Linked DNA regions of Homo sapiens: region 2 is linked to region 1. The links come from fine-mapping of genetic effects on gene expression. A gene starts in region 1. The other region holds a variant in brackets. All regions are shown on one strand. Distances are from middle to middle.

The links. PIP is the estimated chance that this variant, and not a neighbour inherited with it, causes the effect.
Region 2: its variant is fine-mapped to the expression of FEZ2 in whole blood (INTERVAL, PIP 0.98).

The regions. Positions count from the first base shown.
Region 1 is chr2:36,594,367-36,602,706 of GRCh38, forward strand. It overlaps FEZ2 (fasciculation and elongation protein zeta 2), which reads right to left and starts at 3,802. Exons shown (of 8, transcript NM_005102.3): 1 at 3,511-3,802. The coding sequence starts at 3,776. RefSeq lists enhancers at 2,943-3,870, 3,871-4,797, 5,725-6,650 and silencers at 3,251-3,610, 3,651-3,870.
Region 2 is chr2:36,543,796-36,552,135 of GRCh38, forward strand. It overlaps CRIM1 (cysteine rich transmembrane BMP regulator 1), which reads left to right. Exons shown (of 17, transcript NM_016441.3): 15 at 581-703; 16 at 3,189-3,376; 17 at 4,730-7,340. The coding sequence ends at 4,906. Among named protein-coding and RNA genes, the nearest start is that of FEZ2, 50 kb to the right of the region's middle. The variant C/G (reference allele first, on the strand shown) is at 4,377.

The DNA of each region.
Region 1 (8,340 bases):
AAGACATACCCGAGACTGGGAAGAAAACGAGGTTTAATTGGACTTACAGTTCCACATGGCTGGGGAGGCCTCAGAATCATGGCAGGAGGCAAAAGGCACTTCTTACATGGCGGCAGCAAGGGAAAATGAGGAAGGAGCAAAAGCGGAAACCCCTGATAAGCCCATCAGATCTTGTAAGACTTATTCACTATCATGAGAATAGCATAGGAAAGACCAGCCCCCATGATTCAATTACCTCCCCCTGGATCCCTCCCACAACACGTGGGAATTCTGGGAGATACAATTCAAGTTGAGATTTGGGTGGGGACACAGCCAAACCGTATCACTGACTATAGACCTAATCCTGGCAGGAATTTAAGCAGGATACACTAGCAGGTGAAGACAGTCCAGAATTTGAGGAGTTTGCTTTGTCTGCTGATTTGCTCCTTCTTAAACAAGGCTATAAGAAAAAGGCAAATGGGATGGAATATTTCACTTAGAAGTGCCTGTCAGTGAGTTTGATCTTCCAAGAAAATGAAAGCCAACTAACAGTCTCCACCAAGGTCAAAACAATGGTAGTTGGAAGGACACAGAGGCAACTCTAGTGAAAGATTTCTAGAATTCTGCAGTCAAGACATATGAACTGCCTTCATCTTTATCACCAAGTATTACAACCAGTCGTAAACAACGGTCAGGACAGCTCTTTTGCAAGGAGGTCAAAGTCCTGCCAACATCGAATCCTGCAGAATACTCTTATAAGTAAAACCTCAGTACGTAAATACAATCCATATTTAACCAAAACAAAAGCTGAGGCTCAGAGAAGTTAAATGAAGTGCCAAGGGTCGGGGAGGGCTTTGGGGTGATTCAAGCACATTACATTTACGGTGTACTTTATTTCTATTATTACACTGTCATATATCATGAAATAATTTTACAACTCACCATAACGTAGAATCAATGGGAGCCCTGAGCTTGTTTTCCTGCAACTAGATGGTCCTATCTGGGGGAGAGGGGAAACAGTGACAGATCATCAAGCATTAGATTCTCATAAGGTGTCTGCAAACTAGAACCCTCACTTGTGCAGTTCACAATAGGGTTCACGCTCCTATGAGAATCTAATGCCGTGGCTGATCTGACAGGAGGTGGCTCAGGTGGTAATGCAAGCAATGGGGAGGAGCTGTAAATACAGATGAGGCTTTGCTCACTCACTCAGCCACTCACCTCCTGTAGTGTGGCCCAGTTCCAGTACCGGTCTGTGGACCAGGGGTTGGGGACCCCTTGACCTAAAGCACAGCAATATCTGAGTAAAACAATTATCAATTATATCTAGTGAAAAGGGAACTGGAACAGACTATCAAGCAATGATGAGTATGTTTTTGCAATATAAAAGGGACAATGCCAGTGATGACCAGCTCCCAACTCCCGGAAAAAAAGAGATTTCATATGCATTCCCAAGTCAAGAGACATGCATTACCACCAACATATCATCTACTAAATACCATTAACAAGAGCGACAAAATATTTTTAAGCAAAGGCTAAAATAACCTACTCTCCTGACGGTCTAAGTGAAACAAAAACTCTTAACGATCTACGTACAATCCTCTAATTGATTTAAGTCAGCTACTCTTGAAAAACCCAAATACATAATACATCTACACTAATTTTTAAATCCAGAATGTGTCCTGGGTTTAGTGATTCAGAGTATCTAAATCTACATATACATAAAATTATCTTCTCTTTGGGAACAGGCTTCCAAAAATGTCATCTTTTGCTACTGACGGCATGCATGTGTGTATAAAATCCAATTATAAGTGTTTCCCTTCTCTACACCTGGGCAGAACACTGTACTGAGGAACCAATAAAAGGAGATGGTCTCCAAACACAGGTGGGCCTGCACCACTGCTCAGCCATGTTTACAGGCCCCACTCCCAAGGCTGTCTTTACAAGCTTCCTACCTTATTCCTGATAAATCTGTTTGTTTCACAAAGGAAAGGAGACAATCAGGCTGGAAACTCCTTTCCGTGCCCGTGACTCCTGTCCTGTCTCTCAAAAATTCTTCCCTAACCTCTAAGAGTCTCTCCATCCCATCAATGCTCTGAAAATCCATTCCTTCCCATGTCCTCATTTTTGAGACAAAGTCTCGCTCTGACACCCAGGCTGGAGTGCAGTTGTGCGATGATGGCTCACTGCAACCTTCGCCTCCAGGACTCAAGCAATCCTGCCATCTCAGCCTCCGGGCAGCTGGGTCCGTGGGACCACGGGCATGCGCCACCGGACTTCACTAATTTTTTTTTAATTTTTTTGTAAAGACCAGATTTCACGATATTGCCCAGTCTGGTCTCGAACTGCTGGAAGCAAGCCATCCTCCCACCACAGCCTCTCAAAGTGCTGGGATCACAGGTGTGAGCCACCGCGCCCAATCTTATTCCACTCATTTTACCTTCAGCCTCTCCGGAGGCTCCTCTCCCCCTATATACACAACATGCTCAAGTCCCTTTACTCTCACCATTCCTATTTACCATCTTTTGGGGGTAAAACCATGGTACCTAATTACAACTCTTACTTAACCAAATTATAATTGCGGCTCAGGTGGTTTAAAAAGTGCCCTCAGGAACTCTGCGCCTCACCTCTCCCAGCTGTGATAAAACCCCGTGAACCTCCTATCATTGCTCTTAGGTGATTCTGTAATTATTAATATTACTTGTGTATGCCTTGGTCTCCCCACCAGACCATGCGATCGTTACCATCAGTAAGCAGGGCCCTTCGTTTTCGTCTCTGTGGCGGCTCGCACTCTACCAGGGCTCCCGGGTGGGTCCCACAGATTCCTGTGCCCTAAATGCTGCCTCGCACGTTGGTACTTATGCACAGGCAATATACTCCACCTAGAACGTTAGACTTTTTTCCACCTGCCAGGCACACTCCCACTCATCAGTCAGATCTCGTTTGCACATTTCTTTATAAAGTCGTTCCTTACTCTCCCCAAGACACACGCTTTTAAGTCTCTCACATTTGGTACATATAACCATTGCAGCGCTAATTACATCCATACATGTATTTGTTTACAAATCTATCTCCCATCCTACGTTGTGTCCTAAGTGGGAGGGACAGTGCCCAGTCGTTTTGGTGTTCCCTGTGCGAAGCAGCGCCTGGCACTCAGCAGGTGCTTAATAAATGCGACTTGAGTGAATGAATGGCGACACACGTGCCCCAGGAGGTGCCCCAGGAGGTGCCGTCTCTAACTATGGGCTCTGCATGGGCGATTCCCTTCTAATACAAACGAGGGTTTGGTTTGCAGGAAGGAGGGCGGGAGGTACCGAGGCGGAGGTTTTCAGGGCTCGTGGCGGCGGGGGGCAGGGGATTTAAATTGCTGGGCGAGCCGAGGCCGACGGCCGGAGGAAGGAGGCGAGAGGGCGGGGACTCCCGCGTCCGGGCGGAAGGAGGGCGCAGGGAGGAGCTGCGGCCGTAGGGCTGCCGGTCGGGCGAGGGGTAGGGGAGGCTCCCGCCCACTCCCGGCCGGGGCCCCGCACTCACTCGTCCCCCTGCAGGAGGCTGCGCTCCGTGATGGGCCGCACGGCCGTCCTCGGGGGCTCGGCGCCCGGATCCGAGGGGCGGAAGCACAGGCTCAGCTTCTCCTCCAAGCTGCAGGCCGGGGCCGGGAAACCGTCGGCGCCCCCACCCGCCTCGGCCCCCGCCTCCGCCCCAGGCTCGGGGCTCGCGTTACAGTTCTCCTGGTCCAGGAGGCTCCGGGCCGGCTCCTGGAACTCATAGAAATCCTGCCAGTCCCCGTCCGCCGCCATCGCCGCCCGGAGCAGTCGCGCGCCCCGCCCAGGCCGGCCCAGCCCGCCCAGCCCGGCCCCGCCCCGGCCCGAAGCCCCGCCCCCGCCCGCTACCGTGCTGACAGATCCCAGGCTGTCCCAACCCTGGGTCTCCGGTGGCCTGAGTCTTCCTGGAGTTGAACGCGGTGCTACTAGAAAGCCAAGACCTTAACTGCCTTGAGTCACTTCCTATATTCTCTATCATTTAGGAATAACTTCCCTGTTAGCTTCCCTTATTAGCAACTTGGCCTAAATGTGGCTAAAATAAAGGACTTCTTTAAACTTACGACCTAATATCAGATTACGCCCCGAAAGTCGTTTTCCCCAAGGTAACCTGCTCCTTTCCTAACTTGCCAACCAGAATAACAGCCAGAGTCAATGGGAAATGTTTAGGTGGTACCGAAGTTCATTCCTCAAATATTTTACCTCTCACGTGCAAAGCACTGGCTAGATCCTGCAGAACATACAAAGATAATTATGCCAGTTAACATTTGCAAAGCACTTAGAGCAATGCCTAATAGTAGATACCCTATGTGTATGTTATAACTAATACATGGGTGCCCCATACACAGGGCTTACAATGTCGGAGTGATAAGAGTAACAAGAAATTGTTTAGACCTCATAAAAACTAAGTGTGATTGGGCGGTTCAGTTTTGCAAGATGAAAAGAGTTATGGAGATGGATGGTGGTGATGGTTCCACGACAGTGTTAATGTGCTGAATGCCACTGATCTATACACTTACAGATGGTTAAGATAGTAATTTTATGTTTATTTTACTACAATACAAAAAAATTGGAGTAGGCCAGGCGAGGTGGCTCACATCTATAATCCCAGCACTTTGGCAGGCCCAGGTGGACGGATCGCTTGAGGTCAGGAGTTCAAGACCAACCTGGCCAACATGGTAAAACCCCGTCTCTACTAAAAATACAAAATCTAGCTGTCAGGCCTCTGAGCCCAAGCCAAGCCATCGCATCCCGTGACTTGCACATATACACCCAGATGGCCTGAAGTAACTGAAGATCCACAAAAGAAGTAAAAATAGCCTTAAGGATGACATTCCACCATTGTGATTTGTTCCTGCCCCACCCTAACTGATCAATGTACTTTGTAATCTCCCCCACCCTTAAGAAGTTTCTTTGTAATTCTCCCCACCCTTGAGAATGTACTTTGTGAGATCCACCCCTGCCCGCAAAACATTGCTCTTAACTTCACCGCCTGACCCAAAACCTGTAAGAACTAATGATAATCCATCTCCCTTCGCTGACTCTCTTTTCGGACTCAGCCCGCCTGCATCCAGGTGAAATAAACAGCCGTGTTGCTCACACAAAGCCTGTTTGGTGGTCTCTTCACACGGACGCACATGAAATTTGGTGCCGTGACTCGGATCGGGGGACCTCCCTTGGGAGATCAATCCCCCTGTCCTCCTGCTCTTTGCTCCATGAGAAAGATCCACCTACGACCTCAGGTCCTCAGACCGACCAGCCCAAAAAACATCTCACCAATTTCAAATCCAGTAAGCGGCCTCTTTTTACTGTCTTCTCCAGCTTCCCTCACTATCCCTCAACCTCTTTCTCCTTTCAATCTTGGCGCCGCACTTCAATCTCTCCCTTCTCTTAATTTCAGTTCCTTTCATTTTCTGGTAGAGACAAGGGAGACACGTTTTATCCGTGGACCCAAAACTCCGGCGCCGGTCACGGGCTGGGAAGGCAGCCTTCCCTTGGTGTTTAATCATTGCAGGGACGCCTCTGATTATTCACCCACGTTTCAAAGGTGTCAGACCACGCAGGGACGCCTGCCTTGGTCCTTCACCCTTAGCGGCAAGTCCCGCTTTTCTGAGGAAGGGGCGAGTACCCCAACCCCTTCTCTCCTTGTCTCTACCCCTTCTGTGATTTTTCTGGGGCAGGGGCAAGAACCCCTCAACCCCTTCTCCTTCACCCTTAGCGGCAAGTCCCGCTTTTCTAGGTGGCAAGAACCCCCAATCCCTTATTTCCACACCCCAATCTCTTATCTCTGTGCCCCAATCCCTTATTTCCGTGCCCCAACCCCCCTTCCCGCTTTTCTGGAGGGTAACAACCCCGAACCCCTTCCCTCCATGTCTCTACGCTCTCTTTTCTCTGGGTTTACCTCCTTCACTATGGGCAACCTTCCATCCTCCATTCCTCCTCCTTCTCGCTTAGCCTGTCCTCAAGAACTTAAAACCTCTTCAACTCACACCTGACCTAAAACCTAAATGCATTATTTTCTTCTGCAACACCACTTGGCCCCAATACAAACTTGACAATGGCTCTAAATGGCCAGAAAAGGGCACTTTCGATTTCTCCATCCTACAAGACCTAAATAATTTTTGTAGAAAAATGGGCAAATGGTCTGAGGTGCCTTACGTCCAGGCATTTTTCACACTTCACTCCCTCCCTAGCCTCTGTTCCCAATGCGATTCCTCCCAGATCCTCCTTTCCCTCCTGCCTATCCCCTCAGTCCCAACCCCAAGCGTCGCTGAGTTTTTCCAGTCTTCCTTTTCTACAGACCCATCTGACCTTTCCCCTCCTCCCCAGGCTGCTCGTCGCCAGGCCGAGCTAAGTCCCAATTCTTCCTCAGCCCCAACTCCTCCACCCTATAATCCTTCTATCACCTCCCCTCCTCACACCTGGTCTGGCTTACAGTTTAGTTCCGCGACTAGCTCTTCCCCACCTGCCCAGCAATTTACTCTTAAAAAGATGGCTAGAGCTAAAGGCATAGTCAAGGTTAATGCTCCTTTTTCTTTATCCCAAATCAGATAGCATTTAGGCTCTTTTTCATCAAATATAAAAATCCAGCCCAGTTCATGGCTCGTTTGGCAGCAACTCTGAGACGCTTTACAGCCCTAGACCCTAAAAGGTCAAAAGGCCGTCTTATTCTCAATATACATTTTATTACCCAATCTGCTCCCAACATTAAATAAAACTCCAAAAATTAGAATCTGGCACTCAAACCCCACAACAGGACTTAATTAACCTCACCTTCAAGGTGTACGATAATAGAATAAAGTTGCAATTCCTTGCCTCCACTGTGAGACAAACCCCAGCCACATCTCCAGCACACAAGAACTTCCAAACGCCCGAACCGCAGCGGCCAGGGGTTCCTCCAGAACCTCCTCCCCCAGGAGCTTACTACAAGTGCCAGAAATCTGGCCACCAGGCCAAGGAATGCCCACAGCCCAGGATTCCTCCTAAGCCGTGTCCCATCTGTGCGGGACCCCACTGAAAAATCGGACTGTTCAACTCACCTGGTAGCCACTTCCAGAGCCCCTGGAACTCTGGCCCAAGGCTCTCTGACTCCTTCCCAGATCTTCTCAGCTTAGCGGCTGAAGACTGACACTGCCCAATCGCCTCGGAAGCCCCCTAGACCATCACGGATGCCAAGCTTCGGGTAACTCTCACAGTGGAGGTTAAGTCCGTCCCTTCTTAATCAATACGGAGGCTACCTGCTCCACATTACCTTCTTTTCAAGGGCCTGTTTCCCTTGCTTCCATAACTGTTGTGGGTATTGACGGCCAGGCTTCTAAACCTCTTAAAACTCCCCAACTCTCGTGCCAACTTGGACAACACTCTTTTATGCACTCTTTGTTAGTTATCCCCACCTGCCCAGTTCCCTTATTAGGCCGAGATATTTTAACCAAATTATCTGCTTCCCTGACTATTCCTGGACTACAGCCACATCTCATTGCCGCCCTTCTCCCCAACCCAAAGCCTCCTTCGTGTCTTCCTCTCATATCCCCCCACCTTAACCCACAAGTATGGGACATCTCTACTCCTTCCCTGGCAACCGATCTCATGCCCATTACCATCCCATTAAAATCTAATCACCTTTACCCCACTCAACGCCAATATCCCATCCCACAGCATGCTTTAAAAGGATTAAAGCCTGTTACCACTCGCCTGCTACAGCATGGGCTTCTAAAACCTATAAACTCTCCTTACCATTCCCCCATTTTACCTCTCCTAAAACGAGACAAGGCTTACAGGTTAGTTCAGAATCTGCACCTTATCAACCAAATTGTTTTGCCTATCCACCCCGTGGTGCCAAACCCATATACTCTCCTATCCTCAATACCTCCCTCTACTACCCATTATTCTGTTCTGGATCTCAAACATGCTTTCTTTACTATTCCTTTGCACGCTTCATCCCAGCCTCTCTTTGCCTTCACTTAGACTGACCCTGACACCCATTAGGCTCAGCAAATTGACTGGGCTGTACTGCCGCAAGGCTTCACAGACAGCCCCCATTACTTCAGTCAAGCCCAAATTTCATCCTCATCTGTTACCTATCTCGGCATAATTCTCGTAAAAACACACGTGCTCTCCCTGCTGATCGTGTCCGATTAATCTCCCAAACCTCAATCCCTTACTAAAGAACAACTCCTTTCCTTCCTAGGCATGGTTAGTGCGGTCAGAATTCTTACACAAGAGCCAGGACCACACCGGGTAGCCTTTCTGTCCAAACAACTTGACCTTACTGTTTTAGCCTAGCCCTCATGTCTGCATGCAGTGGCTGCCGCTGCTTTAATAC
Region 2 (8,340 bases), 51 kb before region 1:
ATTTACTGAAGATCAGCTTCTAATCTAAATGGTTCCAGTGGTAACATAATGGACATCTGAGACTTATACTCATGAGGTCTACCTACAGTCCATTCCCATTTAGGGGAAGAGAAAGGAGAGGAAATGGCCAAGAAGTCCATAAGAAGTGGACAGTGCTTTAACTTTTTCAAGTTTTGCTAACATATTTTATGTAAGTTATTCAATACCCCCATATTAAAGAGCAGCAGCTATTAAACACCAACATTTATTAGCTGCTGGAAAGTAATAAATAACTTCAGCTAGTCCCCTTCAGTTTCCATAAAATTATAAAACCAACACCATTTGACGTGAAAAAGCAGTTTTTGACCCTGGTGGAGTAGAGAATTCTTTCATCTTTTAAATGTTATAAGACATGTTTCTCCTCACTGCAAAGCTCGTGATTCTCTAGCATGAGTGATGAATGATGTAAATGGCAGAAACTGCATCTTTCATGTCCCAGGAAATGTGGTCTTGAATTGAGTGCACCATTTGGATTGAGAATACAAAAGCCAACAATACAGCAGCTTCATCATCTCTTAGGAAAAATGTTCCCTTCTTTTAGAAATGTATGTCCCAGAACCAACCAATATACCCATTGAGAAGACAAACCATCGAGGAGAGGTTGACCTGGAGGTTCCCCTGTGGCCCACGCCTAGTGAAAATGATATCGTCCATCTCCCTAGAGGTAAGCATTGAAGGCAGCTGAGATCTGCTAGTTTTCTATGTGGTCTACTTAGGTGTTTTCTAATTTTTAAAATTTCCTATGAGTAACTTTTAAAATGACTTGCTGAAGTAAATTCAAATAACTATTCCCGGGCAGACCTGCTTGGCTGAAACATATTTACACCACACATTGATAAAATAAGTCAGCAGGTAACTGGATTAAATGCCTCCTTCCTGGCCCTCTGTGCTCAGAGACTTTGTGATGACGGAAATAAATGGAAATAAATATGTTCCTAGTCATAAGAGCCTGGTATCTGGAACTTCTAAGCCATCTCTCAAACGTATGTATATATAAACTTTGTAAGGAGAGTAATCATGAATTAGTCACTGTCTCTTGTAGATTCCGCACTGAGCATTTGTACATTAGGTTACCCTCTACTTCTGGGCAGTTTTCACTTCATGTGAGCTAAACTTATCACCTATGTTGATTTTTCTAGTCACCAGGTTTACTCCATGCCTTTTTATCTTGCTCTATCCTTTCAGTCTGTGCGTAATAAAGATGTTATTTTGTCTCCCAATAGCTGTCACTATTTCCTTTTCTATAAAAGTAGACCTCTTCTTGATCAGTAGTATAAACTTGCTCTTAGCCGTGACTCAGTACTGCCTCCTGTGTCCTCCAACCATATTTTCCAAATCATTGCTATATAACTTATATTTCTTTTGGAAGAAGCAATATTCATTGCTTGAGAGAGATTAATTGTCTGTTACTCTAGATATTCTAAACGTTATGCTTGGATCAAACCAGATGACCAGAAAGTCAAATTCCTGGACCTAGTGTTTTTGGCTCTCTGTATAATTGTTCTGAGTGTGCTTTAGCATTATGCTTACATTCATTCAGTCAGTAAATATTAGTGCCTGCTGTATGCCAGACCCTGTTCTAGAGGCTAGACTTCAACATACTGTAAGTACGACTATTCTTATGACTGAAGACCTGTGCATTGCATAGTATCTATGTTATAAAGCCCCTAAAGAGAAATTTTCTCATGCATCAATAGCAAGAAAATGTATGCTTCTCCTAGGCAACTGATTTGTTTTAACCTAAAAGACATTGTGAATCGTATTAAAGACTGATAGTTGTTTCCGTTTTTGGCTTTGGCTGCTACAAAGCTCAAAGCTAACTTTGATGGCTTGGTTTTAGCACAGAAACAGAACTGGAAGACTGAATTTTGTAAACAGACCTCACTTGCAGCTTCATTTTTCTTTCACCAAGACCTTCCTTAATTTATATCTTATTCTTCTTGTATGACACATATTCCTAAAACTGCTTTCTATTTGATTTGGAATATGGGAAAGTAAAATTCATTCTTTTATTCATTGTATATTTAAAATCTGAATTCATCAATAAAATGTTACTCTTTGACATTTTTCTTGATGCTGGAAAATATGTTTCTATAAAGTTTTATTGCCATCTGCACTGGCTAAAATGATTAGGAATGTTTTCTACCTCCCATTCCTCCCTGCTCCCACCACCCCTCCAGAACACACACAGAAGCATATCATTTAAAATCTGAGTTTTAAACCACAGTGTTACATACCACAAAGCTCTGTCACTTCATGAGCTGAATTTCCAGAACAATTTAGGAGTAACTCCTTTTGATACTGTGTGTCATGTGTCTTTAACTAAATTGATTTTTAATGCATTTAGAAAACCTGACTACAATGATTTATTTGAAACAAAACAGAATATAAAAATAAGGAAACTTTAGGGAGTGCCCCCTATTGGTATGTGTTTAACCTTATTTTTGTCTGCAACATTCATTGTAAGAGAGATATTTTAAAAGAACATAAAGGTCATCATTCATAAGTGCAAAACTAAATGTAGTCACCTATGCGATATAATTCATTAAGGCAGAAAAATGATCTAATAGGCCTAAGCAAGATTTTCAACAAGTTTATGAAAAGTAAGACAATATTGCTTAGAGTTCAGTGAACCAGAGTATCAACCAAAAGACCAACTTCCTGATTGATTAGTTTTAATCTAATTAGTCTTAGCTATTAACACTAATTAATTAATAGTAAAAGAACATACTTTGTTCTAGTCTCCTGTTTGCCAATAAATCAGCTAATGTTTCTCCTTCGAAATCTGAGAAGACCATGTATGTTAACAGTAATCAAAATATTTTCATGGTCTAATTCACTTTTTCAAAATCTACCTAAGCACCTTCTTATTTCCTTGATTAGCTAGAGCCGGCATCATCTTACCCAATTATTAAGATTCTCACTCTGATTTTTTTTTTTTTTTTTTTTTTTTTTTAACATTCATCCCTAAGCGCTCTGCTCTCTACTAAGAGCTCTTTGGATCAACATTAGATTTTAATCACATTTTTAGCCTCAAAAAACTGGGAAGCAATAAAACCAAGTTGCTGATCTCTATTTGCAATGTCATTAAAATAATCCTTAACAATTCTGGTTTAGGTAATAAATGCTTATAATTTTTTTTCTCCTAGATATGGGTCACCTCCAGGTAGATTACAGAGATAACAGGCTGCACCCAAGTGAAGATTCTTCACTGGACTCCATTGCCTCAGTTGTGGTTCCCATAATTATATGCCTCTCTATTATAATAGCATTCCTATTCATCAATCAGAAGAAACAGTGGATACCACTGCTTTGCTGGTATCGAACACCAACTAAGGTACTGTCTTGCAAAAGTTAGTCTCTTGAATGATGAATCTAGGAAAACTTACACTCATATTGAAATTGCTTGAAACCTTGTGTCTTAACCAGTGAAGTTTTTACTTTGCTCTTCATAGCCTCAAATCCATACCAGGCTATAGTATGAATCAAATACATAGTACTTGCCCAGGGCTGGACTGATCACAAGGTGAATTATCCATTATCCATTGGTTAATGAAGCCTAACCTTACATGGATCCAGTTTTCTCGATGTACTCTGAAGTTTTCAAATGAACAAATACTCCTGGATTTATTCCTAAATCATTGTTTATATTAGACATTAAAACGTGATCACCTGGCATTTCTTAGTCATCAGTCAACTTAGAATTGGGAGAGAAAAAAAGTCCCAAAGGGATGGAGATAATACTCAGGAGAGGGCTGGAAGATCATGAGGGTATACAAAAGGCAAAAGGAACAGGTCAGTGCACCAAAGGCAAGCACCAAGTGGAAAGGTCGCAAAAGATGAAGAGGTGGTGGAAAGTAATAGTAGACAAGGTAGGGAGAGGCAGATTTCACACTAAGGGAGAAAAGATGTATGTTTGTTTTCAGTACAAACATAAAGGGCCTCTAAATCTGCCTATTTTGAAAGACAAGAAAAAACTGTATTAATTAAGGGAAATAAATCATAATCCCTTCCAACTCTAATTCTACCTTTTGCCTTGAGTTGGTTTATTTTAATCATAAACCTTAAGAATTGGAAACAGCCTGAACAATTATGTAATGTAATTTACCATCTGGTTAACCCTTCCATGTAAAAATTCTGTCCTGCGGTTATCCTGCCTCCGATTTTTCTTTGAACAAATGTACATTGGGCACAGCCTCTGTGCTGGGTCAGGATACAGTTGCCAGTGTCCAAAGCTGGGAAACAGACCCGCTCATAAAGTGTATGGAGTGACTAGCAACACACAGGCTGGCCCAGCCTATGATAGTGTTGTACAGTCTGAGTGGTTAGAAGTCATC[C/G]CTTTGTTTTTAAAATCTGCCTACCTTCCACTCATTCTTCAGCCCCCTTGAAACACAAGGTCTGCACTTCAAGGATTTGAAATCATTTCACCAGTCTTTTTTTTTTTTTTTTCAGTTCCTTCATCTCCCTATTTGACAGTTTCTTGACATTTCACCTTAAAATACAGTTTGTCAGTGTCCCTCATAAAAGTATAGTTGGTACTAGAACAAGATGTGATAATCTGCATACAGGCTATCAATCAATGAATTGTGAAACTGTTATCTCACCTGAGTTAGGTACTAAATTTCTGTTCATTTGAGATAATGTAAAGCAACTAATTTTTTGTGGTTTTATTCCTCCTCTCATTAAATAGCCTTCTTCCTTAAATAATCAGCTAGTATCTGTGGACTGCAAGAAAGGAACCAGAGTCCAGGTGGACAGTTCCCAGAGAATGCTAAGAATTGCAGAACCAGATGCAAGATTCAGTGGCTTCTACAGCATGCAAAAACAGAACCATCTACAGGCAGACAATTTCTACCAAACAGTGTGAAGAAAGGCAACTAGGATGAGGTTTCAAAAGACGGAAGACGACTAAATCTGCTCTAAAAAGTAAACTAGAATTTGTGCACTTGCTTAGTGGATTGTATTGGATTGTGACTTGATGTACAGCGCTAAGACCTTACTGGGATGGGCTCTGTCTACAGCAATGTGCAGAACAAGCATTCCCACTTTTCCTCAAGATAACTGACCAAGTGTTTTCTTAGAACCAAAGTTTTTAAAGTTGCTAAGATATATTTGCCTGTAAGATAGCTGTAGAGATATTTGGGGTGGGGACAGTGAGTTTGGATGGGGAAATGGGTGGGAGGGTGGTGTTGGGAAGAAAAATTGGTCAGCTTGGCTCGGGGAGAAACCTGGTAACATAAAAGCAGTTCAGTGGCCCAGAGGTTATTTTTTTCCTATTGCTCTGAAGACTGCACTGGTTGCTGCAAAGCTCAGGCCTGAATGAGCAGGAAACAAAAAAGGCCTTGCGACCCAGCTGCCATAACCACCTTAGAACTACCAGACGAGCACATCAGAACCCTTTGACAGCCATCCCAGGTCTAAAGCCACAAGTTTCTTTTCTATACAGTCACAACTGCAGTAGGCAGTGAGGAAGCCAGAGAAATGCGATAGCGGCATTTCTCTAAAGCGGGTTATTAAGGATATATACAGTTACACTTTTTGCTGCTTTTATTTTCTTCCAAGCCAATCAATCAGCCAGTTCCTAGCAGAGTCAGCACATGAACAAGATCTAAGTCATTTCTTGATGTGAGCACTGGAGCTTTTTTTTTTTTACAACGTGACAGGAAGAGGAGGGAGAGGGTGACGAACACCAGGCATTTCCAGGGGCTATATTTCACTGTTTGTTGTTGCTTTGTTCTGTTATATTGTTGGTTGTTCATAGTTTTTGTTGAAGCTCTAGCTTAAGAAGAAACTTTTTTTAAAAAGACTGTTTGGGGATTCTTTTTCCTTATTATATACTGATTCTACAAAATAGAAACTACTTCATTTTAATTGTATATTATTCAAGCACCTTTGTTGAAGCTCAAAAAAAATGATGCCTCTTTAAACTTTAGCAATTATAGGAGTATTTATGTAACTATCTTATGCTTCAAAAAACAAAAGTATTTGTGTGCATGTGTATATAATATATATATATACATATATATTTATACACATACAATTTATGTTTTCCTGTTGAATGTATTTTTATGAGATTTTAACCAGAACAAAGGCAGATAAACAGGCATTCCATAGCAGTGCTTTTGATCACTTACAAATTTTTTGAATAACACAAAATCTCATTCTACCTGCAGTTTAATTGGAAAGATGTGTGTGTGAGAGTATGTATGTGTGTGTGTGTGTGTGTGTGTGTGCGCGCGCACGCACGCCTTGAGCAGTCAGCATTGCACCTGCTATGGAGAAGGGTATTCCTTTATTAAAATCTTCCTCATTTGGATTTGCTTTCAGTTGGTTTTCAATTTGCTCACTGGCCAGAGACATTGATGGCAGTTCTTATCTGCATCACTAATCAGCTCCTGGATTTTTTTTTTTTTTTTTTCAAACAATGGTTTGAAACAACTACTGGAATATTGTCCACAATAAGCTGGAAGTTTGTTGTAGTATGCCTCAAATATAACTGACTGTATACTATAGTGGTAACTTTTCAAACAGCCCTTAGCACTTTTATACTAATTAACCCATTTGTGCATTGAGTTTTCTTTTAAAAATGCTTGTTGTGAAAGACACAGATACCCAGTATGCTTAACGTGAAAAGAAAATGTGTTCTGTTTTGTAAAGGAACTTTCAAGTATTGTTGTAAATACTTGGACAGAGGTTGCTGAACTTTAAAAAAAATTAATTTATTATTATAATGACCTAATTTATTAATCTGAAGATTAACCATTTTTTTGTCTTAGAATATCAAAAAGAAAAAGAAAAAGGTGTTCTAGCTGTTTGCATCAAAGGAAAAAAAGATTTATTATCAAGGGGCAATATTTTTATCTTTTCCAAAATAAATTTGTTAATGATACATTACAAAAATAGATTGACATCAGCCTGATTAGTATAAATTTTGTTGGTAATTAATCCATTCCTGGCATAAAAAGTCTTTATCAAAAAAAATTGTAGATGCTTGCTTTTTGTTTTTTCAATCATGGCCATATTATGAAAATACTAACAGGATATAGGACAAGGTGTAAATTTTTTTATTATTATTTTAAAGATATGATTTATCCTGAGTGCTGTATCTATTACTCTTTTACTTTGGTTCCTGTTGTGCTCTTGTAAAAGAAAAATATAATTTCCTGAAGAATAAAATAGATATATGGCACTTGGAGTGCATCATAGTTCTACAGTTTGTTTTTGTTTTCTTCAAAAAAGCTGTAAGAGAATTATCTGCAACTTGATTCTTGGCAGGAAATAAACATTTTGAGTTGAAATCACACAGTGTAACTTGCAAAAAGATTCCATCTCTGAGATCCGAAAGACTTTTAAGGTTATCAGTCCAATGAACCCCTGGTGTAACAAGAAGTCCCGTGCTTTTGTCATTAGGCGGGTCTTTCCCAAGGTATCCTTGCAAAAAGAAAAGTGTCTCCCAGAGTACAGAGAATAGCGATGCTGTTTTTAGGGAGACAAGAAACCTACCTGCTGTCAGAAACGTGCTCATAGCTGGTATCAAAATTAACTTGCTACGCACAGGAGGACTGTGGTGGGAAATCCTACAGTGGTTCGATGCTGAAGAAGAAAGACTTTACCGAGCACGATCAGGGGAAGCCTAACTGCAAAGAGACTTTTTGAGCTGACAGGAAAAAATAAATAGGTATATTTTCATACATTTTAGAAGCATCAATTTAAGAATGAGCTATAAACAGACCAATGTTGAATCTCCTTTAAAAAAATATATCCCCCTAAGGACTTTCTACTATATCATATACCCTTTAAAGCTACATTTCTTCAGTACAAGGCGTCATTTTTACAAATTCAAATTAATTTAAATTATTAATATTACTGTGTAAGTACATGTATCTGGGGAAAGGGCCAGTAAGTTCCAAATAAGAACATTAATAAAACAAGGAAACCATCTCGAGTTTCTCATACCCCTAGAGATGATGGCTGAAATGCCAAGCAGGCATTAAACTTCAAACCGCGCCCCTGCCTTTGCAGTCATGGTGTCTCAGTTGCTGAGTGGAGTGAGGAATATGTTAGCCCTGTTTGTTTTGCTCACAGGTGTTTAAGTGGAATTGTGAAAGCCGCCTGTAGCAGGTCCTATATAGACTCTTAATTCATTCATGTCGTCTATGGGAGGGGTCTGCATGGCTGTTTTTGAAATGTCTCACAGCCCCAGAAAAAGAGCAGGACTTACTTCTGTCATTCCACAGCAGCTCAGCATACTCTAATAAACGTCCTCCTCTTCCCCTTCGTAGCATTCTGGGACTAATCAGG